Linked DNA regions of Homo sapiens. The protein of the gene in region 6 purifies or fractionates together with the protein of the main gene of each other region. This does not show direct contact. Each region holds a gene or a part of one and is shown on either strand. Other genes may lie near its edges. The genes, in order: MFSD8, LMBR1, ABCB1, ATP8A1, IFITM1, SLC43A3 and RABL3.

Region 1 (4,087 bases), on a different chromosome or scaffold from region 6:
AGGGTGACTGCTATATCTTTCAATTATAAAGGTTCATGTTCCATTTTGTAATTAGTAAGCAGACACTGGGGTGACATTTGAGGGCCTTTGACTATCCTCTCCTTAACAATCTTCCAGTCAGTTGTTTTAGCATCCATTGATGATCCTTCCATTATAGCATAGAAAGTGGCCATTAAATTATTATTTTCTAATTTTATCCTTTCAATATTTAATAATTGTCATTTGTCATTAAAAGAAGAAAGATTTTGTCTGAGCTCTAAATCAGTCACTCAAACAATTTTATTATTTTTTTAGAATCAAATAATTTACTTCTTGATTCCCTAACTTAGATATATCTGGTTTTTTATTCAAATTCTAGTATATTGATTTCAAAGTATGGGCATCTAGGGTTCTGGTATTTTTCTCAGGTAAGCTACATTATTTTTATTTTTTTCTTATCTCCTTTGACTCAGAAGAGGTTTGTTTATATGGAATGACATATATAGTGTTAAACACTTTAAATATATTAGGAACTAATATGTTTGGCATATAATACATCTAAAAACATTGTTTCTCTTCTTCCTTTCCTCTTTACCACTCCCAACCATATCACGTTTGAAAAAAAAAAGTTTCTTTTTTGAAGACTAATTTGACAGTTCTAAGGCTTATTTTTAAGAAATTAATCTTGGAACATAAGAAGGCATTTTGTCTGTTCTGCATGTCTTGATTATTTGAAAAGATAATGCTCACGTTAAGGTGAACTTGTTAACTCTTTCTATTGTGTGTGTGAAAATGTAATGAGTATATAGACTCATGTGTCACCTAATGGAGGTAAGATATCTACTTAGTATACATGCCTTTGGTCCAGATCAGACGCTTATCCAAAAGATCACTTAAGTCTGGGGAGTCATGGTCTCTCTTTGGTCTGCTGATAAAATTTATCTGGTAACCCATTTAGGAGGTCCCAGGGCTGAAAATGTCTTAGGTTACGTTAAACCTTCCTGGTATCATTCCTGTTTTCTGAAGTAGGAAGCCAAAAGAGCTTCCTGCAGCAATTTAATTTGCTGTCATCAAGTAGAGCATGTTATAATGATGACAGTTATTATTTTTTAGTACTTAGTAGCTACGGGGGATCTAGTTGTAGCTAGTTTATTTGATTTATCTTGACGTAATTTATTCATTTTTACAAATTGCAACACTCTTGATTAATAAATCTGTGCATGTCAATGGTAGCAAAATAATTGCCTTGCAAAAAGTTTCCTCTTTTAAAACTATACTGTTTCCCAAATTTCTGTATACAATAATGCATATATACAATCCATGGAAATTCAAAAAAATAATGCTTATTCATAGATAAATTAGTGTAGCAGAATCAATATTGGTAAATTCTACCTCTATCACATCATTTTCATAACTAGAGAATAAAACTGTTGACACTTAAGATCCACATGTAATGAGATAAATTTATACTACTTTTTTCTTCTTTACACCTAGAGAATGGGACATTTTAGAGACTGAAGAGCATTATAAGAGCCGATGGAGATCTATTAGGATTTTATATCTTACTATGTTTCTCAGCAGTGTAGGTAAGTATTAGAAATACATAATTTTAACAATTCAGATCAGATGTCATATTTTAACTTCATTTACTTCATTTACTTTCATTGCCTCTGAAATTATCTTTATTGTGCTAAAAAATACGTGACATAAATTTACCGTGTTACCATATCTAAGTTCAATAGCCTTAAGTATATCCACATTGTTGTGCAACCAATCCCTAGAACATTTTCATCTTGCAAAAGAGAAACTCTATACCCATTAAACAACTCCCTATTTTCCCATCCCCCAAGCCCTAGCAAACTTTGTTTCTTGGAATTTGACTATTCTAGATAGCTCATATAAATGGAATTATATAGTATTTTTTTTCTTGTGATGAGATTATTTCACTCAATGTCCTCAAGTTGGTTCATGTTGCACTTGTGATAATTTCCTTTTATTTAAAGGCTGTATAGTTCATTATATGTATTCTAGGGTAGGAGAAATTTTTCCTCTATTCTCCTATGTGCTTAAGGCTTGTGAATTAAGCTGACAAAAGAAAGACTAACAGTTAAAAAAGTATACAAATTTATTTGATGTTAATATTTTTTAATGAAAAGAAACAAATAACATTAAGGAATGTACATACAAACGAAACTAGACAACTACTAAGAGTCCCTAACACTTTCATGTACTCACAAAAGTATTTCATCTTTTTTTTTTTTTTTTTTTGAGACGGAGTTTCACTCTTGTTGCCCAGGCTGGAGTGCAATGGCACGATCTCAGCTCACTGCAACCTCCACCTCCCAGATTCAAGCGATTCGCCTGCCCCAGCCTGCCAAGTATCTGGGATTACAGGCATGTGCCACCACCCCTGGCTAATTTTGTATTTTTAGTAGAGACGGGATGTCTCCATGTTGGTCAGGCTGGTCTCGAACTCCCAACCTCAGGTGATCTGCCCACCTCGGCCTCCCAAAGTGCTGCGATTACAGGCGTGAGTCACCGCCCCCAGTTAAAAATATTTCATCTTTTTTCTTTTTTTTTTTTTTTCAAGACGGAGTTTCGCACTGTCGCCCAGGCTGGAGTGCAGTGGCGCGATCTCGGCTCACTGCAAGCTCCGCCTCCCAGGTTCGCGTGATTCTCCTGCCTCAGCCTCCCGAGTAGCTGGGACTACAGACACCCGCCACCACGCTAATTGTTTTATATTTTTAGTAGAGACGGGGTTTCACTGTGTTAGCCGGGATGTCTTGATCTCCTGACCTCGTGATCTGCCAGACTCAGCCTCCCAAAGTGCTGGAATTACAGGCCTGAGCCACCGCACCTGGCCAAAAGTATTTCATCTTTACAGCCATCAGTCAATTATTTGTTCTGCTACTTCTTGAAGATGTGCAAAATTTCTTTTTAAAAAAATTTTATTATTTATTATTATTTATTCATTTTTTGAGGTGGAGTCGCCCAGGCTGGAGTGCAGTGGTGTGATCTCGGCTTACTGCAACCTCTGCCTCCTGGGTTCGAGCAATTCTTGTGCCTTAGCCTCCCGAGTAGCTGGGACTACAGGCGCACGCTATCACGCCCAGCTAATTTTTTTGTATCTTTAGTAGAGATGGGGTTTCACGGCGTTAGCCAGGATGGTCTCGATCTCGTGACCTCATGATCTGCCCGCCTCAGCCTCCCAAAGTGCTGGGATTACAGGCGTGAGCCACCCCGCCTGGCCAGTGCAAAATTTCTTAAGTTTAAATATACAGTCTTAATTATACCTGTGTCTTAATGTCCCAAGACAGATTGTAGGTAACAGAATCTCAATTGTGCCTCAAAGAATTAACAACAAAACAAAATTCAATCTATTCTCTGCATTCAGGCAGAAAGGGGGAGAGCAGAGAACCCTTCCTGCATCTGCTATTTCTCGGTTGCCTTCAGTTTGAGATAATTAATATGGCAAAACAGCAGATTTTTGGAGTAGCATACTCTGATTGCCTTCAGTATATACCACATTTTTTTTTTTTTTTTTTTTGAGACAAAGTCTCGCTCTGTCGTCCAAGCTGGAGTGCAGTGGTGTGATCTTGGCTCACTGAAACCTCCGCCTGCGGGGTTCAAGCAATTCTCTGCCTCAGCCTCCCAGGTAGCTGGGATTACAGTCACCCACCACCATGCCCGGCTAATTTTTGTATTTTTAGTAGAGATGGGGTTTCACCATCTTGGCCAGGCTGGTCTTGAACTCCTGACCTCGTGATCCACCGGCCTCAGCCTCCCAAAGTGCTAGGATTACAGCCTAGCCTGGCCTACCACATTTTGTTTAGCCATTTATCTGTCGATGGACATTTGGGTTGCTTCCACCTCTTGGCTGTTGTGAATAGTGCTGCTGTCAATATGGGTGTGCAAATATCTCTTCAAGATCCTGCTTTTAGTCCTTTTGGGTATATATCCAGAAGTGAAATTGCTGGATCATATTATGATTTTCTTTTTAATTTTTTAATTTTTTGGAAAATTGCCATACTGTTTTCCATAGCAGCCGTACCATTTTATTTACATTCTCAACAACAGTCAGGGTTCCAATTTTTTCACATCCTTGCCA
Region 2 (4,087 bases), on a different chromosome or scaffold from region 6:
GATTAAGAAATCTCTCCTTACTCTAAGACTGATGTTCTCTTCTTCTTTTCTCTAAATGCTTTATTGAATTACTCTTCTCATTTAAATTTGCAATCTATTTCGAATTTATTTTTTTGTGTCTGGTGCAAGGTAGGAGTCATATTTTTTTCTCCCACAGGAATGTCCAATTGCTTCAGCACTATTTAGGACTTTTGTCACAGATAGGTAACTGTATATTCATAGGGTTTAATTTTGGACTTTATGTGGTTTTATTGGTCTATTTGTCTTTAGTTTTATTATTTTTTAAAATTTGAGACAGGTTCTCCCTCTGTTGACCAGGCTGTCGTGCAGTGGCGCAATCATGGCTCACTGCAGCCTTGACTTCCAAGGCTCAGGCGATCCTCCCACCTCAGCTTCCCAAGTAGCTGGGACTACAGGCTTGAATCATACAGGTGTGCACTAACAGACCCAGCTAATCTTTTAATTTTTTGTAGAGGTGAGGTCTCACCGTGTTGCCCAGACCTGTCTCCTGGGCTCAAGTGATCCTCCTGCTCTTTGGCTTTACTTTTAATTAATTAGATATTCTAGAATTTGGGTTGAGAAAGGGACACATTGTAAAACAGTCCAGAGCTTCGTCTACTCCCCTGAAAACGGTTTTGGTACCGATTATGGAGTTCTTTAGTTCTGACTCTCCTCACCTGTTTCCCTCAACCCAGTACCCCTGGCTGGTTGAGTCTACTCCATCTTCTACAGAACCAGCGCAGACAGTGACCAGGCTCAGGGTTCCCAGTCTTTGGCATTTCTTTCTCAAATGATTTATATTTAGAGTGAATGTAAATACTTTTTCTCTAAGACCTGTTGCCAATTTTTAAAATTATTCAATTCTTTCTGATTTTGCTACATAATGCTATAATTGCTTAACTTTTTTATCATAATAAGATATATATATATAACATGCAATTTACCATATCTAAATATACAGTTCAGTGGCGTTAAATACATTCACATTGTTGTGCAACCACCACCACTATCCATTTCCAGATCTTTTTCATCAACTGAAACTTGATACCCATGAAACAGTAACTCTCCATTCTTCACTCTCTCCAGCTGCTGGTTCTGCCTATATGAATCTGACTATTCCCAGTTGAACCATACAATATTTGTCCTTTTCTATCTGGCTTATTTCACTTAGCATAATGCCTTCAAAGTTCACCTGTGTTGTAGCATGTGTCAAAATTTCTTTTTCTTTCTTTTTTTTTTTTGAGACAGAGTCTTTCTCTGTTGCCCAGGCTAGAGTGCAGTGGCGTGATCTCGGCTCATTGCAACCTCTCCCTCCCTGGTTCAAGCAATTCTCCTGCCTCAGCCTCCCGAGTAGCTGGGATTACAGGCATGCGCCACCGCACTTGGCTAATTTTTGTATTTTTAGTAGAGATGGGTTTCACCATGTTGGCCAGGCTGGTCTTGAACTCCTGACCCCAGGTGATCCACCTGCCTCAGCCTCCCAAAGTGCTGGGATTACAGGTGTGAGCCACTGTGCCTGGCCTCATTTTTTAATTTTTTGTAGAGATGGGGTTTTTGCTATGTTGCCCAGGCTGTTCTTGAACTCCTGGCCTCAAGTGATGCACCCACCCTGGCCTCCCAAAGTGCTGGGATTACAGGCGGGAGCCAACGTGCCTGGCCCAGAATTTGTTCAGGCTGAATAATATTTTCTTTTTGTGTATACTGTATTTTGCTTACCCATTCATTCATCAATTGACCTGAGTTGTTTCTGTTTTTGGCTATTGTGAATAATGCTGCTGTGATCATGGGTATGCAAATATCTATTAGAGTCCCTGCTTTCAATTCAGAAGTAGAATTGCTGGATCATATGATAATTCTATGTTTAATTTTTTTTTTTTTTTTTTTTGAGACAGAGTCTCGCTGTGTTTCCCAGGCTGGAGTGCAGTGACTCAATCTCGGCTCACTGCAAGCTCCGCCCCCCCGGTTCATGCCATTCTCCTGCCTCAGCCTCCCGAGTAGCTGGGACTACAGGCACCCGCCACCACGCCCAGCTAACTTTTTGTATTTTTAGTAGAGACGGGGTTTCACCATGTTAGCCAGGAAGGTCTTGATCTCCTGACCTCGTGATTCGCCCGCCTCAGCCTCCCAAAGTGCTGGGATTACAGGCGTGAGCCACCACGCCCGGCCTCTATGTTTAATTTTTTTGAGGAACTGCCATACCATTTTCCACAGAGGCTGTACCATTTTATATTCCCACTAGCAAGGAGCCAGAGTTTCTGGTTCTTCCGCATCTTCACCAACACACATTGTTTTCTGTTTTTCTTCTTTTTTTTAAAATGGATGTGAAATGGTATCTGATGCTGGATTTGATTTGCATTTCCCTAATTATAAGTGAAGTTCAGCATTGTTTCATGTGCTTATTGACTATATGGACATCTTCTTTGGAGAAATATCTGTTCTTTGCCTGTTTTTGAATTGAGTTGCTTGATTTTTGTTGTTTAGTTTTAGGAGTTCTTTATATATTCTGAATATTAACCCCTTATCAGACATGTGATTTGCAAACACTTCTCGCCCATTCTGTAGGGTTGCCTTTTTACTCTATTGCTAGTGTCCTTTGATGCACAAAAGTTTTTAATTTTGTAGTCCAATTGATCTATTTTTTCATTTGTTGCCTGTGTTTTTTTGTGTCATATCCAAGAATTCATCACCAACTGGCATCATCACCAACTGGCATCATGAAGGTTTTCCTCTAAGAGTTGTATAGTTTTAGCTCTTAGGTTTAGGTCTGATCCATTTTGAATTAATTTTTTTGTACAATATAGTGTTTAACTTTTTTTTTTTTTTTTTTTTTTGAGATGGAGTCTCACTCTGTCGCCAGGTTGGAGTGCAGTGGCACAATCTCAAGGCTCACTGCAACCTCCGCCTCCCGGGTTCAGGCAATTCTCCTGCCTCAGCCTCCCGAGTAGCTGGGACTACAGGCGAGCGTCACCACACCCAGCTAATTTCTGTACTTTTAGTAGAGACGGGGTTTCACCATGTTGGCCAGAATGGTCTCAATCTCTTGACCTCGTGATCTGCCGCCTCGGCCTCCCAAAGTGCTGGGATTACAGGCGTGAGCCACCGCGCCCAGCCTAGTGTTTAACTTTTAAATACTCATGTAATAATTTTGTCTTTTGTATTATGAATATCTCATAGTTCTCTTGTCAGTTGCTTTAGTGATCATATTTGACTTTGGCTATTAGTATCAGGTAGTAATGATTGATTTCCTTTCTTTTGAGAGCTAGCTATGAAATCCTAAGGCTGCCAGCTAACTGAGTATACCCTCTCTTGGCTAAGGGGACCCCAGGAAACCTTAAAAACTGAATTCCCAACCAGAATGGGATGGGACATCTGACACGCCTCAGTATACCCCCTCCCTTTTGAGGTTTAAACACAGCTGACCAGCATTAATGTTAAAATAGAGATCTGAAGACTGAGAGAACAGACTCTTTGTGGCAATAAAATACCCAACTGTGAACAAAATGTAGGGCCATGCCAGGCAAGGGTTAAGTAAAGCATCCCCTTAAAGAATAAACTGGTTCTAACTGCCTCAAGGTGTTTCTTTTTTTCTAGCGGCTAAACAAGCACTGGCCTCCAGATAAGCAATATTAAGATAACTGCAGCTCACTCACTGCCAGACCCTAAGTGATCCCCACTCTCCTGTTCCACAAGCCATAACTATAGCTTTGATTGGACAAGAGACTGATTTCAGTAACTTTCTCCTGATAAGAGCACTGAGCATGAACTGGTTCTGGCCAGTTTACAGAGGCTGTGCACTTCAGTGCCTTCATGTCCCTGCTTCGCCATCTGACTACAGGGCCTCATTGTAATCCTTTTAGATGTTAAGTCTCCACCCACAAGTGAATATGGATAAGTATGTAACATACATGTTTATTCAGCCTGCATGTGCATGACCTCCCCCACTTTGTGAATATTCATAGCTCCTCCTATAACCTGTTAAATATATAAACTTGGCCAACCCGTTCAGCATAAATCCCTGTTCTATCCTCCCTTGAAGGTCTGTTTCTGTGCTCTGCGGGAGGATGCTTCCCAGCTATCAGGATTGCCA
Region 3 (4,087 bases), on a different chromosome or scaffold from region 6:
GAGACATACATATTTTTGCCCACAAACCTATGGGTTAGCTGTGAAGTTCTACTGATCTGGATTAGGCATAGTGGATCTCGGCTGGACTTACTCATGTGTCTGTAGTGGATTGTGTCTGTAGCTGGTTGGTTGGGATTCAGACAGCTCTCCTCCATGTGTGCCTCATCCTCCAGCAGGCTATCCTGGGTTTGAGACAGTGGCAGAATTCTGAGAGAGAGAGAGAGAAAGAGAGAGAGAACACATGCATGCATGCTCACAAAGCATATAAGGCCCCCTGAGTCATAGGCTTGGAACTGGCAAAAGTGATTTCCACCATATCCTGTTGGCCAAAGCAAGTCACAAGGCCAGCCCAGATTCAAAGGGTGCTGCAAAGGTCACAGTGCAAGAAGATGAGGATACAGAGAGAGGTATACAGAGGGAAAAAAATGGGCCATTTTGCAATCAATCTATCACATAGACATGAACTTATAAGGAAATGTGTTTGTTTTATTTTTAACATCTGTTTTATAACTATTAGAGGCAAAGCTCTCTGGTTATAGAAGTGTCAACTTTTGGCCAGGCATGGTGGCTCACACCTATAATCCCGGCACTTTTGGAGGCTGAAGCAGGAGGTTCACTTCAGCCCGGTAGTTCGAGACCAGCCTGGGCAATATAGGGAGACCCCCATCTCTACAAAAAATAAAACAATTAGCTGGTGTGGTCATGCACAGTTGTAGTCCCAGCTACTACAGAGGCTGAGGTGGGAAGATCGCTTAAGCCCTGGAGATCATATCTTTAGTGAGCTCTGATTGCACTACTGCACTCCAGCCTGGGCAACACAGGAAGACCCCACCTCAAAAAAAAAAAAAAAAAAAAAAAGGAGTGTCAGCTTTCTAGCATTGTGATGGTAATGCTGTGCACATGTTTTGTGTTTGTGCTTTCCAGAGTATTTTCAGCTGTTGTCTTTGGTGCCATGGCCGTGGGGCAAGTCAGTTCATTTGCTCCTGACTATGCCAAAGCCAAAATATCAGCAGCCCACATCATCATGATCATTGAAAAAACCCCTTTGATTGACAGCTACAGCACGGAAGGCCTAATGCCGGTGAGTTTGATGTTTCAACTGTTTGATCTACTCCTGACTCCTGAATGAAAGTATTTTAAGTGGAAACTTAATAAAATTTGTACTTTCAAATATGCTGATGATAAAATAAAACTTCCTAGATCATAGATTCCTTTCAATTACTGCTAATAATATACATCAACATTCAGTACTTTTACGTAGCAAAGGTTATAGGGAAATAGGAATACTGCTCACTTTATAAGCAAAACCTATTAATCAGATTTTTTAAAAACAATTTTTTTTTAGAGACAGAGTCTTACTCTGTCATCCAGGCTGGAGTGCAGCAGTATGATCATAGCTCACTGCAGCCTTGATCTTCTGGGCTCAAGCGATCCTCCTGCCTCAGCCTCCCAAGTAACTGGGACTACAAGCGTGTGCCATCATGCCCAGCTAATTTTTTAATTATTTGTAGAGACAGGGTCTCGTTATGTTGCCCAGGCTGGTTATCAGATTTTATTGTATGTAAGTTACTGTATTCCTGAGGAACAGATTTGAGTTATTGTAGCTGTATTGCATATTCATATTGTCTTAACAATACATGCTATGAAAGCTTTTACTCTTTTAGATCTCATTTATTAAATTCTAGCAGTCTGAGGTCAAGCACAGTGGCTCATGCCTGTAATCCCAGCACTTTGGGAGGCCAAGGTGGGTGGATCACGTGAGGTCAGGAGTTCGAGACCAGCTTGGCCAATATGGTGAAACTCCATCTCAAATAAAAATAAAAAAAAAAAGATTAGCTGGGTGTGGTGGCACACGCCTGTAATCCCAGCTACTTGGGAGGCTGAGGTACGAGAATTGCTTGAACCTGGGGGGTGGAGGTTGCAGTGAGCTGAGATCATGCCACTGCACTCCAGCCTGGGTGACAGAGTGAGACTCTGTCTCAAAAAAATAAAAAATAAATAAATAATAAAATTAAAATAAAATAAATTCTAGCAGTTTGAAGTGAAGCCAATTGTAACACAAATTAATTATCTTCTGACACCTGGTAATCGAGAGAGTTAGCTATACACTTTATTTTCAGTATTGCAGCATTCAAATTTACTGTTATTCTTCTCATTGCAGAACACATTGGAAGGAAATGTCACATTTGGTGAAGTTGTATTCAACTATCCCACCCGACCGGACATCCCAGTGCTTCAGGGACTGAGCCTGGAGGTGAAGAAGGGCCAGACGCTGGCTCTGGTGGGCAGCAGTGGCTGTGGGAAGAGCACAGTGGTCCAGCTCCTGGAGCGGTTCTACGACCCCTTGGCAGGGAAAGTGGTGAGCACACTTTCACATTTAGCTCAGTTCAGGTTTTCATCATCCAAATGTCTGAATGTATTTAATTCTCAACTATAAGCCATGTTTTTTCAAACCTTTAAACAACAGTCCCACTTGGATAAAGTCTGAGAGCCTAAATATGGTCTCCAAGTGGTGTCATCTGTCCCAGCCAACTTCTCCAGGCTCCCCTCAACACTACCCCTCTACCCTCCTTTGCAAGCACCCTTTGTACCACCTGTCTCCCTTGCTGTACTTAGGTTTCAGCTGACTTGAAAAGAACCAACAAAAATGGAAGTAGCCAGAAAGATACAGGACAGGTGCTAGGAGTGAGATGAAAGCCAAGGATGGAGACTGTTTCAAAGATGGTGGTCAGCAATGACAGATGGTATAGAGAGATTGGGTAAGGAGGAGACTGAGAAGACATGATAGAATCTAGCAATGAATGGGCTATTTCTGACATTTTAAAATATTCTTAGTGAAGTAGTGATGGTAGGAAACAGTTAAGGGTGGCTGAAGTATGATTAGGGGAAGAAATGGAGATGTAAGTGAGCATAGATTATCAAGAAGATGGAAAGTAAAAGAAAGGCAAATAAGGACAGCACTTGAGTGGGGAGGCAGAGTCCAGGGAAAATGTTTAGGGGTTGAACTCTTGAGCATTTTTATGACTGGGGATGAGACAAAATCATTGATGGAGAGAGGGCATTGAAACATCATCTGAGGAAAAAAAAGTAGAATCAACAAATTTGGGAAATGTAAAAAGAACATGGAAGTATGCCCTTTTGTCTTAGTTGCTGGGGATGAGGGAAGTGTCTGGCAGGGAGTAGTGAGTTTAAACGACTATGATGGGGGATAGGAAAGAAGACAAACTAGGAAGGAATAGAATTAAGAGCAAGACATTTTCATTATGTAGGCATGTAATTAGTTGTACTGAGAAGTGATATTTAAAATTCTTAACAATGGGAACAGCATGGACACTGACCAATCAGAATGGATGCCTGCTAGTACAAGTCAGATGGATGCCCACCCGCTGTGTATGGACGCTGGTAGCATTTAATGACTCAAATGAAAAGAGAGTTTTCAATCTTTAGTCTAGGACTCTTTTTACTTCCTCACAGCGGTCACTCTTACTCATAAATGTTTGTTATTGTATTCAAAGACAGTTATGCCTTTATTCAGTTTACTCTTAAATCATTACAAGCTTGTTCCCTACTTTTACTCTCTTGCTTTATATTTTCTGTGAACTCTGATTGTGTCCTTCAATTTTGTGGTGAACTTAAAAACAGGACTCTAAATAAAGACGTCGCTGACAGCCAAAGCAATTAGAGGAGGAAATGTTAGCTCTCAGACACTGATTATGGCCCTCAACAGACAGTTATTAAGTGGTGTGTTAAAGATTGTGCTATAATGAATTGTAGGGCATGATATCTGCCCTCAAATACTTTAACTGAGGAGATGGGGCATATAGTTTTGTGAGTTAAAGGAGATAGGCCTAGAGCTAGTTCTTAAGAGATAAGGATTTGCATATGGGTGAACAGTAGGGATGACATTCAATGTAAGAGAAAATACAAGCTGCGATCAGTGATTTGTTCCCAATGCAGCAAATAGGACACTTTGGCTGAAATGGGAGTTTAGTTTGAGTAGTGGTTCTCAAACTTCTCTGATGAGAACTCATGTAGGAAAGATTTAAAGATGTCACCATCCACTAATGTACTCATAGTCACTTTCCAG
Region 4 (4,087 bases), on a different chromosome or scaffold from region 6:
GTGATTATTACAAGTCGTCCATGTCATGATAAGTGATCTGCATTAAAACATTTGTCTTGTAATTTTAATGCAATAGTCAACTTTTTAAATTTCTATCTTTTAATAAAATTTTTTAGAAATTTGAATCAAATGACCATTTTTCATAGCATTTATATGTAAGGCTATTTTTGCCATCAGCTTTAATTCTTGCATTGATCTTCACACCTGCCTACAGTTGCTCCGTCCCTGTGTTATACCATCAATATTCAATAGTCAGATGGGTGTGGAAAACAGTTTTAAGAAACTAAATGAAAATCTGCTCTCAGAGCTAATACCTTTGTACCTTGTACAGGCATGAAGGTATTATCAATAGGCAAGCGAGATTGCTGTTAGTGATTCCACCACTAGCCATTTTATAAATTCTATAAATCTTCATTTCATATTCATTCTGACATTTAATTTTCTGTTCTATGGATTTTTTGGTTAGCACAGGTCTACATAACCATTTGAATCATCAAATACAACTGAGGCAACTTGCCTCTGTTATTCTTTATAGCCAGGACTACTTAAATTGTTGCTGCGTTCAGTAAAACAATTGCTAAATGCCACCAGAAATTTGAAAGCCGGAGATCCTTTAAATGTTGCCTTCCTATGTTCAAATTTCCAGGTGCCTGTTTGCGGGAGCATGGGCTGCCTTGTCTGCCTGTCTTCCTGAACGGAAACACTAAATGTTTCTAGACTACCCTGTTTGCTTACATAGCCAAGTAATGCATTATTCATCTTACCTGCCACAATGCAAAAGCTATTTTTGCAAAGGGAATGTAATTTCGTTCTCTTCTTTCTTATAGTTTACTTCCTAGAAAAAGGCCTGGGTGGTGTAGTGGCCTTGAAAAAAAGGTGGTTAACCATTGGCACCTTATTACATTTGTCATGGGTTTCACATAATTTTCACGTATCCACCCACATCTAGATACTGAGTTGTGACTTTGTCATCCTCAACAGAATACTAAGTATAGATTGCTAAATCATTGGTGTACATTTTTTATTACTCATCTTGTTTCTTTTTACAGAATTCAACAAGTCCACCACTTAAGCTCTCAAATGTGGAACGGATTACAAATGTACAAATTTTGATTTTATTTTGTATCTTAATTGCCATGTCTCTTGTCTGTTCTGTGGGCTCAGCCATTTGGAATCGAAGGCATTCTGGAAAAGACTGGTATCTCAATCTAAACTGTAAGCAATAAAGTGCTTACTGCACTTTTTTAGATTAAGACATGTATTTGTTTCACAATTGATCTTGATTTACTTTATTTCGTATTGTTTCTAAAAAGACCTTGTTGCCAAGATAGCTGGACATTTGATCTTTATTTTTCAGTGAGATTTCTAGCAAGTGTAAGTAAAATTTGGGAATCCTAAAATTTCAGAATCCTTAAAAACATAATGAGCACTCTATAGTGGTATAAAATGTTCACTAAGTATAGTCATTTATTATATATATCAACGAAAACTATTCCTTAAAAATATTTTTAACATAGGTGGTTAACTATATGGTAAAGAAAGTAGATTGACCATGTGTGGATATAACAAAACATATATATTTAAATATATATTGTATGTATTTATAAATATATAAAATATTTTAAATATATTTAAATAATATAAATATTTAAATATATTTTATCTTAAATAAAATATACTTTGTTTATATTTTATTTAAATAAAAGTACCAAAAAGTGGTTTATATGGTTTAAAAATGTTTAAACCCAATGTATTTTCATTTGAACTCAGTAATGTGGTAAGTCCTATATTAAATGTTATCTTAGAGAAGGTGCTAGTAAATAGTTTTCCTTTAGAGCATTTATCCTTTTATTATTGTGATATTAATGTACCACCCCTGGATATTTCTGTCAAATGAGTTTACATTTTCATTTCATGAGTACTTAGCCAATAAAGACTTAACTTCCAAAAGTGTGAAAGCAAATTCTAGTACAATCACATAGCAAAAACTGGTATTTTTAAATTTTTTTTATTATATTGATTTATCTTTGCAGCAATTCCAAGTTGTTTTTATAGTTACTGATTTATTATTTCAGTATCAGAACTGTTACTACCATCAGTCTGTTTCTTTGTATACTTTATAATTGTATCTGGTATAGCAGTTTTATTTTCATTTTGAGGAAGAAGAGTATAATGTACCTAGGAGAATAATTTACCTAGGACTGAATATTACTCATATAGTTTGGATTGTTTTTGCTGCTGCTGTCTTGTTTGCTTTTAAAGTATGCTTTAAATTGGAAATACTCTTAAGAATTTATATAAAAGTGATTCTACCCAATTGAGATTTTATATTTATAAACCCTCAGTGCTATCCCTGATGTCTCTAAACTTTGTGTTTGGAAGAGGGTTTGCAATATTTGACAGTCCTTTCACTGTCTTAGTACTTTTATACAGCTCTTACCTGGATTAACAACATATTGAACACAATGCAATTCTATCTTGAAGGATGTACTTGAGAATTAGGATAGATTATCAGCAAAGTGTTCCTCCCAAATTATCAAATAAGCTGCGTAGTATGGAAAACTTGTATTATGCTAATTTGGGGTCAATGCAAATAAAATATAAAACTGTAAATGACGTTCTTCCTGCCTCTCCCAACAGATGGTGGCGCTAGTAATTTTGGACTGAATTTCTTGACCTTCATCATCCTTTTCAACAATCTCATTCCTATCAGCTTATTGGTTACATTAGAAGTTGTGAAATTTACCCAGGCATACTTCATAAATTGGGTAAATATGAATTATGATTGTTATCACCCTACAAAATAATTTTGTCCTTAGGATATTTTGATATCTCAGGAGAAAAAAGGTTTTAATTATATCTACCGTTTCTTGACCACAGTATCAGATTTTTGAACCTAATTTGTTGCAAAGTTCCTCATCTCAGAATCACACAAGTTTACAGGCCAGACATTGTAGGGAAAATGGGTCTCTAGTTCAGGAAACCTATGGTGGTCGTGGGAGATGGAGAACCATGAGTTTGGAGTTAAGTGTCTGAATTATGGTTCTAGTATTATAATTTACTAGGTGTATCAACTTTCTCAAGTCACTTATTTTGAAACTTATTTTCTTGAACACAATCATAGGGATAATATGCCTTACCTACATCTTACAGTGGTTTTATGGACTAAGGAATCTCTTGACATAGCAAAGAGCTTTGAAAATAATCAATCACTATACAAATAATACTGTAATTCTTACTGATATCAACCAGATTATCATGTTATATCATGTTATTTTCTACACTGTAAACAATTTTAGCTTCACTTGAATTTTTCTTCATAATTTTTCTCTTGAATATTGTTAAATATTAGAAAAATGTTGGACATCTACTTTCTAAATGTTTTTAAATGTCTTAGTTTTATTTTTATTAAAGTTAAAATTAATGAATTTATCTAAATTAAATCTGTGGGCCTAATCTGCCAGAAAATTTAATTTTTCTTTTATTTTGAGAAACTTTGTGTTATTTTTGATGTTTCTTTCTTTTTCAATCATTGTAAAGTCTTTCAATATGAACAATATTAGGGTTTCGAAAAATATGACATACTTTTGTAACTGCTCATTATCTTCTTGTAGCGAATTATCTACCTAAACTGTCAATCTCTTAATTCATTGGTAAGAAATCAGTGTGATTTAGAAATCTAAAATGAGCTGCAGGTGTAGCTCACTTCATGCAGGAGATATATGGCTGAAAAATTACGTAATAGGATATGTACAAATATAAGTAAGACTTATTGAAGTTTCTTATAGCAATAATAGGGTAACTCATTGTGAGAATCACATAAGTAAGCTAGATAATCACTTTGTTGTTTTGATTTTCAAAAATAATATCTTTCAAAGAATTATATAATTTTAGTATTGGATGAACCCAGCAGGCTTATGCTTTCAACCACCTTTCTAATATACAGAGATTTTATAACATCTGACAGATAGAACACTGACTTTCCAGCCTTCTTTTACAAAGCAACTTTCTTGTGTGAAAATGAGATTATAACTGTCTTCCTTTGATTCTGGTTCTTCCCAATGGATCTATTAAGAAAATGCTTAAT
Region 5 (3,789 bases), about 57 Mb from region 6:
ATGACTTTTGCAAAGGTGGTTTCAGTTCCATGCCTGCCCCTCAGAATCCTGTCTCCCTCTTGTGCCCTGCAGTTTCTTCCTTCCTAAACTGCCCGTGATTTAAAGAAGCTTCCAAAATACCTTCCACGGGAAATTCAAGCCCCACCCCACTCCGCAGTGATGTGTGGCCTTTGATAGGAGGTCACAGAGCCTTGTGAGGAGTTTGTGTAGGCAGTCCTCGATGTCTCAGAGCACGCTCCATCCACATCCACCCCTGGCTTGCCGGGACCCAGACATAGTTTGGTCTAAGTGGCCTGGGATGTGGCTGGGGCTGGAGGCGGCCTGTTGAGGGGTGGGTGGAGGGTGGGGGGGTTGGTGTGCGATTTGGGGAGGCCCAGCAGGGACTCCAAGCAAGGGCAAGGGCTAGTTCTTTTTTTTTTTTTTTAGCTGCAATGGGTAGGGAGGGGCTGATGGTTTTGGAGCTCGGTGTTTGAGATGTTAAGTCTGCTGATGCTCCTGGCCGAATAAAGGCCAAATAAAGCCCTTTCTTTCCTCAACTCGATGTCTGAGGGTTTTGTCTGTGGCTCGTCCTGCTACAATTTCTAACGTTACCAGTAATTTTAAAGCTAGCTTATTAAAGATTCTACTTAAGTCACATGAACGTGAAAAGCATTTAGGCTTATTATTTAATTTATGAGTACTCTTTAAGTTTAAGCTAAATTTGGTAACTTGTGGCCAAAAACACATAACGAAATATGTGTATGTGCACATATACACACATACACACTCAAGCAAAAGTATGGTTTTACTTCAGAACTCCAGCCATGAGATAGTAATACAAATTCATTGGTTTACACAAACAATAAAAAGAAATGGTTGGATGCAAACAGTGGATTTTATCTCTGTAGAAAAGTAACAGCAGACTTAAAGCAGGCAGAAACGAAAGCAGAAAGAGAACTTAAGAACATTACATTAATAATTGCAGGCCCACCTTTGGGCTCTGATTTTTCCTTTATGTAATTTGCAATTTGTAATTCATGATCCTTGTGCCTGAGGGCTCCCTTCTGCTACTCAGTCTACAATTCCCCGTCCCTGTGAAGGGGCACCCAGGCCTGACAGCCCCAGACTTGGCTTTGCCAACCCTCCAGGTCTCTCCTGCATGGCTAGGACCCAACGCCTAGGTCATCCAGCACTCACCCCAACCAAAGCCATGGGAATTGCTGGGACCCGGAAGGTAGGGGGTGGCACATGTGTGCCCTGTGCTCTGAAGCTGCCCCTACAGGCCCTGGAATCCTCCCCGTGTCTCAACACACTACCCTCTGGGGAGTCAGTTCTCCCCAGAGTCCCCGTTCCTGGGCCTGGAGGGCTGCTTTGGGGCAGGAAACTTTGGCCACCAGGCCTCTGACCTGCACCAGGAGACACTGGGAGGTTTAGTCCCCAAACCCGCACAGAGCAGGACTGCAGCCTGAGGAAAGAGCAAGGATTTCAGGAGAGAGGCCTGCGACAAGTGAGGTGAGGGCTTTTGGGGGATTGTCCTGGCGCCTGGAGTGTGGGGGCCTGGCAGGGGCCCTGAACCGGGACAGTGAGGTCCTGTACTTGCTGGCCTGGGGTGGACAGAACCCAAGCCTGGGTAAAATCCCCAGGGCCCCCTAAACCCAACACTTAGGAAGTCACTAGTCCTGACTTGAGTTTCTGATGAGGAAGCCTCTCTCCTTAGCCTTCAGCCTTTCCTCCCACCCTGCCATAAAGTAATTTGATCCTCAAGAAGTTAAACCACACCTCATTGGTCCCTGGCTAATTCACCAATTTACAAACAGCAGGAAATAGAAACTTAAGAGAAATACACACTTCTGAGAAACTGAAACGACAGGGGAAAGGAGGTCTCACTGAGCACCGTCCCAGCATCCGGACACCACAGCGGCCCTTCGCTCCACGCAGAAAACCACACTTCTCAAACCTTCACTCAACACTTCCTTCCCCAAAGCCAGAAGATGCACAAGGAGGAACATGAGGTGGCTGTGCTGGGGCCACCCCCCAGCACCATCCTTCCAAGGTCCACCGTGATCAACATCCACAGCGAGACCTCCGTGCCCGACCATGTCGTCTGGTCCCTGTTCAACACCCTCTTCTTGAACTGGTGCTGTCTGGGCTTCATAGCATTCGCCTACTCCGTGAAGGTGCGTATGGCCCTGGCGGAAATCCAGGGGGTGCCGGTGAGCCTGGGGCTCCACCTGCCCACATGCTGCCTGGGGTGGGGACTTGTGTGTCCCTGTGACTGTGAGTTTGTGTGCACCTCTGCCCCGTGTGTGCTCACGTCAGTAGCTTTGTCTGTGTGATCTGTGTGTGTGTGTGGCTTTGGGGAATCTGCCCAGTGCAGGTCTAGGAGGAGGCTCCAGGAGGCTGGCTGGCTGGCTCAGAGTCTGTCCCTGGCTATCCATTAGCCCAGAGCAATTCTCCCTATAGCCCAGTAAGAAATTACACCCTCACCTTCCAGACTGGCACCCAGGCTCTCCCAGAAAGTGAGAAGGGAACTCACAGGTGACTTCACCCCATGGTGGGGAGAACAGCCTGTGCTGGGGCCAAGGCAGAAGGAGGATGAGCCCCGAGGCTCCTGGAGAGTCTGAGCCCGGGTGAGGAAGGGGAGGAGGTGGTCCCTGATCTCAGGGCGGGGAGGAGACGGAGCCATAGCACGCGGCTCTCAGCTGGGGGATCCTGGTCCCCTCACCATCTCCTCTCCCCCAGTCTAGGGACAGGAAGATGGTTGGCGACGTGACCGGGGCCCAGGCCTATGCCTCCACCGCCAAGTGCCTGAACATCTGGGCCCTGATTCTGGGCATCCTCATGACCATTGGATTCATCCTGTTACTGGTATTCGGCTCTGTGACAGTCTACCATATTATGTTACAGATAATACAGGAAAAACGGGGTTACTAGTAGCCGCCCATAGCCTGCAACCTTTGCACTCCACTGTGCAATGCTGGCCCTGCACGCTGGGGCTGTTGCCCCTGCCCCCTTGGTCCTGCCCCTAGATACAGCAGTTTATACCCACACACCTGTCTACAGTGTCATTCAATAAAGTGCACGTGCTTGTGATGATGCTGTGACTTCATCTGGAGTGGGGGCCCTGCTGAGGGGTCCCGGCCTAGTCCTGAGACAGCCCAGTGCTCAGCCCCTGCACAGCCGTATCCCTCCTCTGTGAAGCTCTCAGGGGAGCAGGGATATGCTCAGAATCTGCTGGTTTCCGCCTCCTGCTGTGGGCAGCATCTGGACCAGGAACGTGGGGTGGGCATTTCTCTGACACCAAGGTAAGGACACACTGTCCAGAATACCTTTGGGCCAGGACAACCTGCCTCTGAGCTGGCTGGGCAGCTGGTCTTGCAGATGTGTGCACCTTAGGCCCTGTGGGAGGGGCAGGGGCTTTGTTCCTAGGGTAGCAGCTGAAGGAACCTCAGGGCTGCAGCCTCTCCTGGGTGATCCAGGTGTGCTGGATCCTAGCAGCTGCCTCCTCCAGTCCAGCCGGCATCTTCCCTGCTCCCCTGGGGTGGGGGCAGCCAATGGCCCGAGGGTGGGGCGCTCGCGAGGGCCTGGGAGGGCAGCTTCCGACCGGGAGCCCCGCGGGAGCTCGGGAAGAGGGTCCCGCCAGGTGGAGACCCCTCTGGTGCAGCCAGCGAGGGCCCCGGGATCCCGCAGTCTTGAAATGTGACGGGAAGTCCGAGGCATCACGAAGTCGGAGACGCAGGGCGCGTCGTGGGTCCCGGGCGCCGAACGCCAGCTCGCCACGGCCCAGCAGCGCGGCCAGATCCCGGTCCC
Region 6 (4,087 bases):
CCCCTCCACACCTGCCCCCAAACCCAGTCTCCCGCACCTGACTGCCTCCAGGCCCCGCCTTGCCTCCCAATTTCTTTACCTCCAGCTTCTCTTTGCCCCAGTGTGTCCGTCTCCACAGAGCCCGCCCCAAGGCCACTTACGCAAGGGTGAGGAAGGCCGCGTTGCTCCCATAGAGGAAGGAGCGGCTGATCACTTGCAGGATGAAGGTGAGGTACTGGAGAGGGAGGATGGGGACTGAGGCACAGAGGGCGAAGCCCAGGCACAGCAGGGATGTCAGGGCCAGCGAAGGCACCGTCGAGCAGAGGGCCACCGCCAAAGTGGAGGAACCTGGGCGAACAGAGAGGAAAAAGAAGCTCTCTGTAGGCCAACCCAACAGAAGTCAGCGAAGGGCCAAGGAAGATTGGAAAAAGGGGAGGAGCCACTATCCATCCACTGTCCCAACAGAAACCTGGGAGTCATCCTCGAATCCTTTCCCCACATGCCCCACCTCAAACTCATCAATAATGCTGATCATTCACCTCCTACATATCATTCAAATGTGCCCACTTCTCTCCAACCCCACTGACTCATCCTAGCTTTAAACTACCATTAACTCAGTCATGGATTACTGCAATACCCTCCTGACAGGCTACACATCTGCCCCTCCCCACCCTGAACATGTAGCCAGATCCTCTTTGTAACACTACTGGTAATAGCAAAAGACTGGAAACAATCCAAATAGTCATCAGTACAGGAATGCTGTGGCAACTATGCTGCAGCCATGTAATGGAGACCCAGGCAGTGGTTAAAAGGCATGAGAGGTCCCTGCTACAGAGCACCCTCAGGATAGAGTTACATCAAAAAAAAAAAAAACTCTGCAGAATAGTGTATACAGTATACTACCTTTTATCTAAAAGAGAGGGAAATGTATTGATATGGTTTGGCTGTGTCCCCACCCAAATCTCACGTTGAATTATATCTCCCAGAATTCCCACGTATTGTGGGTGGGACCCAGTGGGGGAGGGTAACTGAATCATGGGGGCCAGTCTTTCCCACGCTATTCTTGTGATAGTGAATAAATCTCACGAGATCTGATGGGTTTATCAGGGGTTTCCACTTTTGATTCTTCCTCATTTTTCTCTTGCCACCACCGTGTAAGAAGTGCCTTTCACCTCCTGCCATGATTCTGAGGCCTTGCCAGCCATGTGGAACTGTAAGTCCAATTAAACCTCTTTTTCTTCCCAGTCTCAGATAGGTCTTTATCAGCAGCATGAAAACAGACTAATACATGTATATACACCTACACAATGTTTATATTTAAAAAAATAAAAATGGTTACCTAAAGAAGAGGAAAAGGGGTACAAGAAACAGAGAGGGAAAGTAAACTTCTTTGAATATATCTTGTTTCACAGTTTTACCTTTGGGAAAATGTAAATGTCTGATATGTAAATGTTTTACAAATAAAATAAAATAATAATAGGAAGAAAACAAGTAAAACAATCTTTAAAAATCAGAAACAAAATAAAATGAAATCAATGAACATAACTCTATACCAAATTAGTGACCCTTAAAATCAGTAATTTGGCCCAGTGTGGTGGCTCACACCCACAATCCCAACACTTTGGGAGGCCAGGGCAAGAGGATTGCTTGAGCTCAGGAGTTAGACATCAGCCTGGGCAACAAAGACCCTTCCTCTACAAAAAAAAAAAAAAAAAAAAAAAAAAAAAAAAAATTATTTTAAATTAGCCAGACATGGTAGTGCATGCCTGTAGTCCAAGCTACTTGGGAGGCTGAAGGGAGAGGATCACTTGAGCCCAGGAGGTTGAGGCTGCAGTGAGCCGTGATCGTACCACTGTACTCCAGCTTGGGCAACAGAGTGAGACCTCATCCCTAAAAATAAAGAAGAAAATATGGCAATTTGACTGTACATCTCTAATGGGATATATCCTAAGGATGAGAAAGGAATAAGGAAGGACAGAAAAAAGGAAACAAAGAAGTAGCAACAGTATTTAGCAATTGTATTGTTATCAAGTAACATCAATATTGGTAAAACCAGTAATTATATTTAAAATACTATATATGTGTATGTACATTTACATATGCATATGTTAGGAACCAAGTTTATCAGAGGAAGAGAAAGGGCTACAAATGTAAAATCAAGGAAATAAAAATTTGAATAAAAATATCAGTATTAAGTATTTATGATATTTTTCTTATAAAAAAATTATATATATGTTAACTCTATCCAAAACCCAAAAGCAGTGACAACCCAGGAGCAATAAAAAACCTCAGCATCCAGACTGTAGTCTCTACCATTTCCAATTAAAGAAACCCAGGGCTAGTTGGGAAAAATGACAATTTCATGTCTAGGGCAAGAAACACACCTAGTGAAATGGACCTGAACATTTAATTGTGTTAGAAAGTAAGGAAACTCTCTAGAAATAATGTGATTTCATCTAAAAGACACAGATTCTGGGCTGGTAAAGTTTTCAATGGCCAAAGGTGAGACAATTTGAGCATCAAGAAGAATCATGACAGAACAGATTAAAACATGTCAAATATATTTTAAAATGAAATATTATAAAAGAAACAATTAGTAGCCATCCCTGAAGGTCACTAGGGCACCAACTCATATTTCAAACTGGTAAATAAATGTGTAAGCCAAGCATTTATTTCTGGGTAACAAAATAGTAAGGAATGTTTTTCTTTCTAGAAGAATTCTAGTGATTAAAAGTAGAAGATAGAAATAGAAAATCATCCTTTTGGCCAGGGGCAGTGGCTGTAATCCCAGAACTTTGGGAGGCCAAGGCAGGTGGATCACTGGAGATCAGGAGTTTGAGACCAGCCTGGCCAACATGGTGAAACCCCATCTCTACTAAAAATACAAAAATTAGCCAGGTAGTGGGTGCCTGTAATGCCAGCTACTCGGGATGCTGAGGCAGGAGAATCGCTTGAACCTGGGAGGCGGAGGTCGCAGTAGGCTGAGATTACGCCACTGCACTCCAGCCTAGGCAACACAGTGAGACTCTGTCTCAAAAAAAAAAAAAGAAAGAAAAGAAAATCATCCTTTTGCGATCCTAATGAAATAATGGGCCTAGGCATTGATCATTAATGGCTCCTAAAATCACTAAGTATATGGTTGATGGGAAACTTTATAGTGGATGGATCAGACTCGCAATGTCTAAACCAGTTGATCAATCTTAACATCGTAACAAGACAACAGACACCAGGGGCTGCTGACAGGAGAACAGAGGAAACCCATAGCTCTACCACTGAGTTATTCACGGCAAAAAAAAAAAAAAAAAAATTAAACTGCGTTTCCTCCAAGCTTCTAATCCTGTTGTTTACAGGAAATACCCAAGGAAAGGAATACTTTTAAATGACACATTAAAACAACGCCAAATCCAAAATATGGGGAAATGACCCAGTTTCTTCAACAAATAAACAAGAAAAGGTAGGGGGGAGGACTGTTCTAGATTTTAAAAGCTATAGAAGACACAGCAACCAAATACACTGCATGGACCAGGCATGGATCCTAATTGGAACAAACCAACTGTAAAAGGATGTATTTGAAATGATTGGAGGAATTTGAACAGTGACTGCACAGTAGATGATATGAAGAAATTATTGTTATTTTTTAGGTGTGATCATGATTTTATGGTGATGTTTAAGTAAAAGAGGCCTTATTTGTTAGAGATACATGTACGGGTATAGAGAAATATTTACGGATGAAATGATACGATGTCTGAGATTTGCTTTGAAAACTCTAGCAGGTGTGGGAGAAGCAGGTGCATGGGTGGGGGAAGGGATAGATGAAATAAGTATGCAAAATGTTAGTCTACTTTTGTCCCTCCTGACCCAGCAGGTTAAAATACCTCAGCATACCTCTACTCCTCCAACCAGGTCCAAGGATCAGGCCAAAACTCCCTGATGTGGTAAACAGCCTGACCCCTTCTTACCTCTCTCTCTCCAGCCACTTCCCTAAGATTCCCCAGTGCTCTGTGCCCTAGCCAGCCCGACTCATCTGCCCAGATTCCTCAATGTTTCACTCTCTCATTCACCATTTTGACCCCACTGTGCTCCTGGGCCACTCTCCAAGGCCCCGCCT
Region 7 (4,087 bases), on a different chromosome or scaffold from region 6:
AAAAGTAATAAAAGGGAAGCCTGAGAAAATGTTTGATTCAATTACACATACGTAAAATGATTAATATATTTAATAGATAAAGAGCTCATATAAATTAATGACACTAAAACCTGGTAGATAAAGGTACAGAGTAGATCAACAGAGAATTTATGAGAGGAAAAACAACTGATTTGCCAGAATAATCATAATGATAATCTTTGATCTTTATCAGAAAGTAAAGAAATGCAGACTAAAGCAAGCTGTCACTCCCCCACTGCCCGCCACCACCGAGACGGATTGTTGCTCTGTCACCCAGGCTGGAGTGCAGTGGCGCAATCTCGGCTCACTGCAGCCTCTGCCTCCTGGGTTCAAGTGATTCTCTTGCCTCAGCCTCCCAAGTAGCTGGGATTACAGGCACCCACCACCACGCCCAGCTAATTTTTGTATTTTTAGTAGAGACAGGGTTTCACCATTTTGGCCAGGCTGGTCTCGAACTCCTGACCTCGTGATCTGCCTGCCTCAGCCTCCCAAAGTGCTGGGATTACAGGTGTGAGCCAACGCACCTGGCCAAGATGTCACTTTTATTCCTTTATCAGGTTAACAAGGATGAAAAGCCAACTACATGATACTGTTGAGGTGCAACAAGACCTGCAGGCTCAAGTGTATGGCTGGTGGCAGTATAACCCCATGAAAGTTATTTCTCAATGCATATCAAGAACTTTAAATGTTTCCTTTTAAGTACTGAGTTTACTCCTGGGAAGGTATACTAAGGACATAATTTTAATTTTAAACAAAGGTTTAAACAGAAATAACCTTTCACTAGCATATCAAAAATTTCAAAACACCCTAAATATCTAATAATAATGGAAGAATGATTAAGTAAATTTTTATGCCTACTTTCTGAAGTACTATGGAGATACTTTAAATGTTTATGAAGATTTTGGAATAATATGGAAACTTTTAATAAATACTAATTAAGGTTCTGATCTAAATACTAGAGATAAAAAAGCTGCGTAAGAACCCTCAAGGAACTTAAAATTAAGGGAGTGGTTCCAAGATGACCAATTAGGAACAGCTCCAGTCTACAGCTCCCAGCGTGAGCGACGCAGAAGACAGGTGATTTCTGCATTTCCAACGAGGTACCAAGTTCATTTCACTGGGGCTTGTCAGACCGTGGGGGCAGGACAGTGGGTGCAGCCCACTGTGTGTGAGCCAAAGAAGCGCAAGGAGTCAGGGAATTCCCTTTCCTAGCCAAGGGAAGCGGTGACAGACAGCACCTGGAAAATTGGGTCCCTCCCACCCTAATACTGTGCTTTTCCAATGGTCTTAGCAAACAGCACACCAGGAGATTATATCTCTGACCTGGCTCAGAGGGTGCCACACCCACGGAGCCTTGCTCATTGCTAGCACAGCAGTCTGAGATCTGCAAGGTGGCAGTGAGGCTGGGGGAGGGGCGCCCGCCATTGATGAAGCTTGAGTAAGTAAACAAAGAGGCCAGGAAGCTCGAACTGGGTGGAGCCCACCGCAGCTCAAGGAGGCCTGTGTGCCTCTGTAGACTCCACCTCGGAGGGCAGGGCATAGCCTGAAACCTCTGCAGACTTAAATGTCCCTGTCGGACAGCTTTGAAGTGAGTAGTGGTTCTCCCAGCACAGAGTTTGAGAACAGACAGATTGCCCCCTCAAGTGGGTCCCTGACCCCCGAGTAGCCTAACTGGGAGGCACCCTCCAGTAGGGGCAGACTGACACCTCACATGGCCCAGTACCCCGCTGAGAAAAAGCTTCCAGAGGAATGAATGATCAGGCAGCAACATTTGCTGTTCAGCAATATTCGCTGTTCTGCCACCTCTGCTGCTGATGCCCAGGCAAACAGGGTCTGGAGCGGACCTCCATCAAAATCCAACAGACCTGCAGCTGAGGGTCCTGACTGTTAGAAGGAAAACTGACAAACAGAAAGGACATCCACAACAAAACCCCATCTGTCCGACTCCATCATCAAAGACCAAAGGTAGATAAAACCACAAAGATGGGGAAAAAACAGAGCAGAAAAGCTGAAAAGTCTAAAAATCAGAGCACCTCTCCCCCTGCAAAGAAACGCAGCTCCTCGCCAGCAAAGGAACAAAGCTGGATGGAGAATGACTTTCACAAGTTGAGAGAAGAAGTCTTCAGATGATCAAACTTCTCCGAGCTAAAGGACGAAGTTCAAACCCATTGCAAAGAAGCTAAAAACCTTGAAAAAAGATTAGCTGAATGGCTAACTAGAATAACCAATGTAGAGAAGTCCTTAAATGACCTGTTGGAGCTGAAAACCATGGCACAAGAACTACGTGATGATGCACAAGCTTCAGTAGCCGATTTGATCAACTGGAAGAAAGGGTATCAGTGATGGAAGATCAAATGTATGAAATTAAGTGAGAAGAGAAGTTTAGAGAAAAAAGAGTAAAAAGAACGAACAAAGGCTCCAAGAAATATGGGACTATGTGCAAATACCAAATCTATGTCTGATTGGTGTACCTGAAAGTGACAGGGAGAATGGAACCAAGTTGGAAAACACTCTGCAGGATATTATCCAGGAGAAGTTCCCCAACGTAGCAAGGCAGGCCAACATTCAAATTCAGGAAATACAGAGAACGCCACAAAGATACTCCTCAAGAGGAGCAACTCCAAGACATGTAATTGTCAGATTCACCAAAGTTGAAATGAAGGAAAAAATGTTAAGGGCAGCCAGAGAGAAAAGTCAGGTTACCCACAAAGGGAAGCCCATCAGCGTATCTCTCAGCAGAAACTCTACAAACCAGAAGAGAGTGAGGACCAATATTCAACATTCTTAAAGAAAAGAATTTTCAACCCAGAATTTCATATCCAGCCAAACTAAGCTTCATAAATGAAGGAGAAATAAAATACTTGACAGACAAGCAAATGCTGAGAGATTTTGTCACCACCAGGCCTGCCCTAAAAGAGCTCCTGAAGGAAGCACTAAACATGGAAAGGAACAACTGGTACCAGCCACTGCAAAAACATGCCAAATTGTAAAGACCATTGAGGCTAGGAAGAAACTGCATCAACTAATGAGCAAAATAACCAGCTAACATCATGATGACAGGATCAAATTCACACATAACAATATTAACCTTAAATGTAAGTGGGCTAAATGCTCCAATTAAAAGACAGACTGGCAAATTGTCAAGACCCATCAGTGTGCTGTATTCAGGAGACCCAGCTCATGTACAGAGACACACATAGGCTCAAAATAAAGGGATGGAGGAAGATCTACCAAGCAAATGGAAAACAAAAAAAGGCAGGGTTTGCAATCCTAGTTTCTGATAAAACAGACTTTAAACAACAAAGATCAAAAGAGACAAAGAAGGCCATTACATAATGGTAAAGGGATCAATTCAACAAGAACAGCTAACTATCCTAAACATATATGCACCCAATACAGGAGCACCCAGATTCATAAAGCAAGTCCTTGGAGACCTACAAAGACACTTAGACTCCCACGCAATAAAAATGGGAGACTTTAACACCCCACTGTCAACATTAGACAGATCAACAAGACAGAAAGTTAACAAGCATATCCAGGAATTGAACTCACCTCTGCACCAAGCGGACCTAATAGACCTCTACAGAACTCTCCATCCCAAATCAACAGAATATACATTCTTCTCAGCACCACATCACACTTATTGCAAAACTGACCACACAGTTGGAATAAAGCAATCCTCAGTAAATGTAAAAGAACAGTAGTTGTAACAAACTGTCTCTCAGACCACAGTGCTGTCAAACTAGAACTCAGGATTGAGAAACTCACTCAAAACCGCTCAACTGCATGGAAACTGAACAACCTACTCCTGAATGACTACTGGGTACATAATGAAATGAAGGCAGAAATGAAGATGTTCTTTGAAACCAATGGGAACAAAGACACAGCATACCAGAATCTCTGGGACACATTTAAAGCAGTGTGTAGAGGGAAATTTATAGCACTAAATGCCCACAAGAGAAAGCAGGAAAGATCTAAAACTGACACCCTAACATCACAATTAAAAGAACTAGAGAAGCAAGAGCAAACACATTCAAAAGCTAGCAGAAGGCAAGAAATAACTAAGATC

What was found.
Region 1: the proteins of SLC43A3 (region 6) and MFSD8 purify together in Homo sapiens (affinity purification with mass spectrometry; one large-scale study listed by BioGRID and IntAct). This does not show direct contact.
Region 2: the proteins of SLC43A3 (region 6) and LMBR1 purify together in Homo sapiens (affinity purification with mass spectrometry; one large-scale study listed by BioGRID and IntAct). This does not show direct contact.
Region 3: the proteins of SLC43A3 (region 6) and ABCB1 purify together in Homo sapiens (affinity purification with mass spectrometry; one large-scale study listed by BioGRID and IntAct). This does not show direct contact.
Region 4: the proteins of SLC43A3 (region 6) and ATP8A1 purify together in Homo sapiens (affinity purification with mass spectrometry; one large-scale study listed by BioGRID and IntAct). This does not show direct contact.
Region 5: the proteins of SLC43A3 (region 6) and IFITM1 purify together in Homo sapiens (affinity purification with mass spectrometry; one large-scale study listed by BioGRID and IntAct). This does not show direct contact.
Region 7: the proteins of SLC43A3 (region 6) and RABL3 purify together in Homo sapiens (affinity purification with mass spectrometry; one large-scale study listed by BioGRID and IntAct). This does not show direct contact.

The regions. Positions count from the first base shown.
Region 1 is NC_000004.12:127,954,979-127,959,065, reverse strand, and holds part of MFSD8 (major facilitator superfamily domain-containing protein 8), read left to right. Parts: intron 1-1,473; coding exon 1,474-1,565; intron 1,566-4,087. UniProt on the Homo sapiens protein: Outward-rectifying chloride channel involved in endolysosomal chloride homeostasis, membrane fusion and function. Conducts chloride currents up to hundreds of picoamperes.
Region 2 is NC_000007.14:156,886,208-156,890,294, reverse strand, and holds part of LMBR1 (limb region 1 protein homolog), read left to right. Parts: intron 1-4,087. UniProt on the Homo sapiens protein: Putative membrane receptor.
Region 3 is NC_000007.14:87,513,503-87,517,589, reverse strand, and holds part of ABCB1 (ATP-dependent translocase ABCB1), read left to right. Parts: intron 1-924; coding exon 925-1,081; intron 1,082-2,161; coding exon 2,162-2,359; intron 2,360-4,087. UniProt on the Homo sapiens protein: Translocates drugs and phospholipids across the membrane. Catalyzes the flop of phospholipids from the cytoplasmic to the exoplasmic leaflet of the apical membrane.
Region 4 is NC_000004.12:42,576,941-42,581,027, reverse strand, and holds part of ATP8A1 (phospholipid-transporting ATPase IA), read left to right. Parts: intron 1-1,049; coding exon 1,050-1,215; intron 1,216-2,640; coding exon 2,641-2,768; intron 2,769-4,087. UniProt on the Homo sapiens protein: Catalytic component of a P4-ATPase flippase complex which catalyzes the hydrolysis of ATP coupled to the transport of aminophospholipids from the outer to the inner leaflet of various membranes and ensures the maintenance of asymmetric distribution of phospholipids.
Region 5 is NC_000011.10:312,201-315,989, forward strand, and holds IFITM1 (interferon-induced transmembrane protein 1), read left to right. Parts: upstream 1-1,839; 5' UTR 1,840-1,970; coding exon 1,971-2,156; intron 2,157-2,721; coding exon 2,722-2,913; 3' UTR 2,914-3,072; downstream 3,073-3,789.
Region 6 is NC_000011.10:57,409,795-57,413,881, forward strand, and holds part of SLC43A3 (equilibrative nucleobase transporter 1), read right to left. Parts: intron 328-4,087; coding exon 141-327; intron 1-140. UniProt on the Homo sapiens protein: Sodium-independent purine-selective nucleobase transporter which mediates the equilibrative transport of extracellular purine nucleobases such as adenine, guanine and hypoxanthine.
Region 7 is NC_000003.12:120,735,558-120,739,644, reverse strand, and holds part of RABL3 (rab-like protein 3), read left to right. Parts: intron 1-977; exon of another isoform or gene 978-1,118; intron 1,119-4,087. UniProt on the Homo sapiens protein: Required for KRAS signaling regulation and modulation of cell proliferation. Regulator of KRAS prenylation, and probably prenylation of other small GTPases. Required for lymphocyte development and function. Not required for myeloid cell development.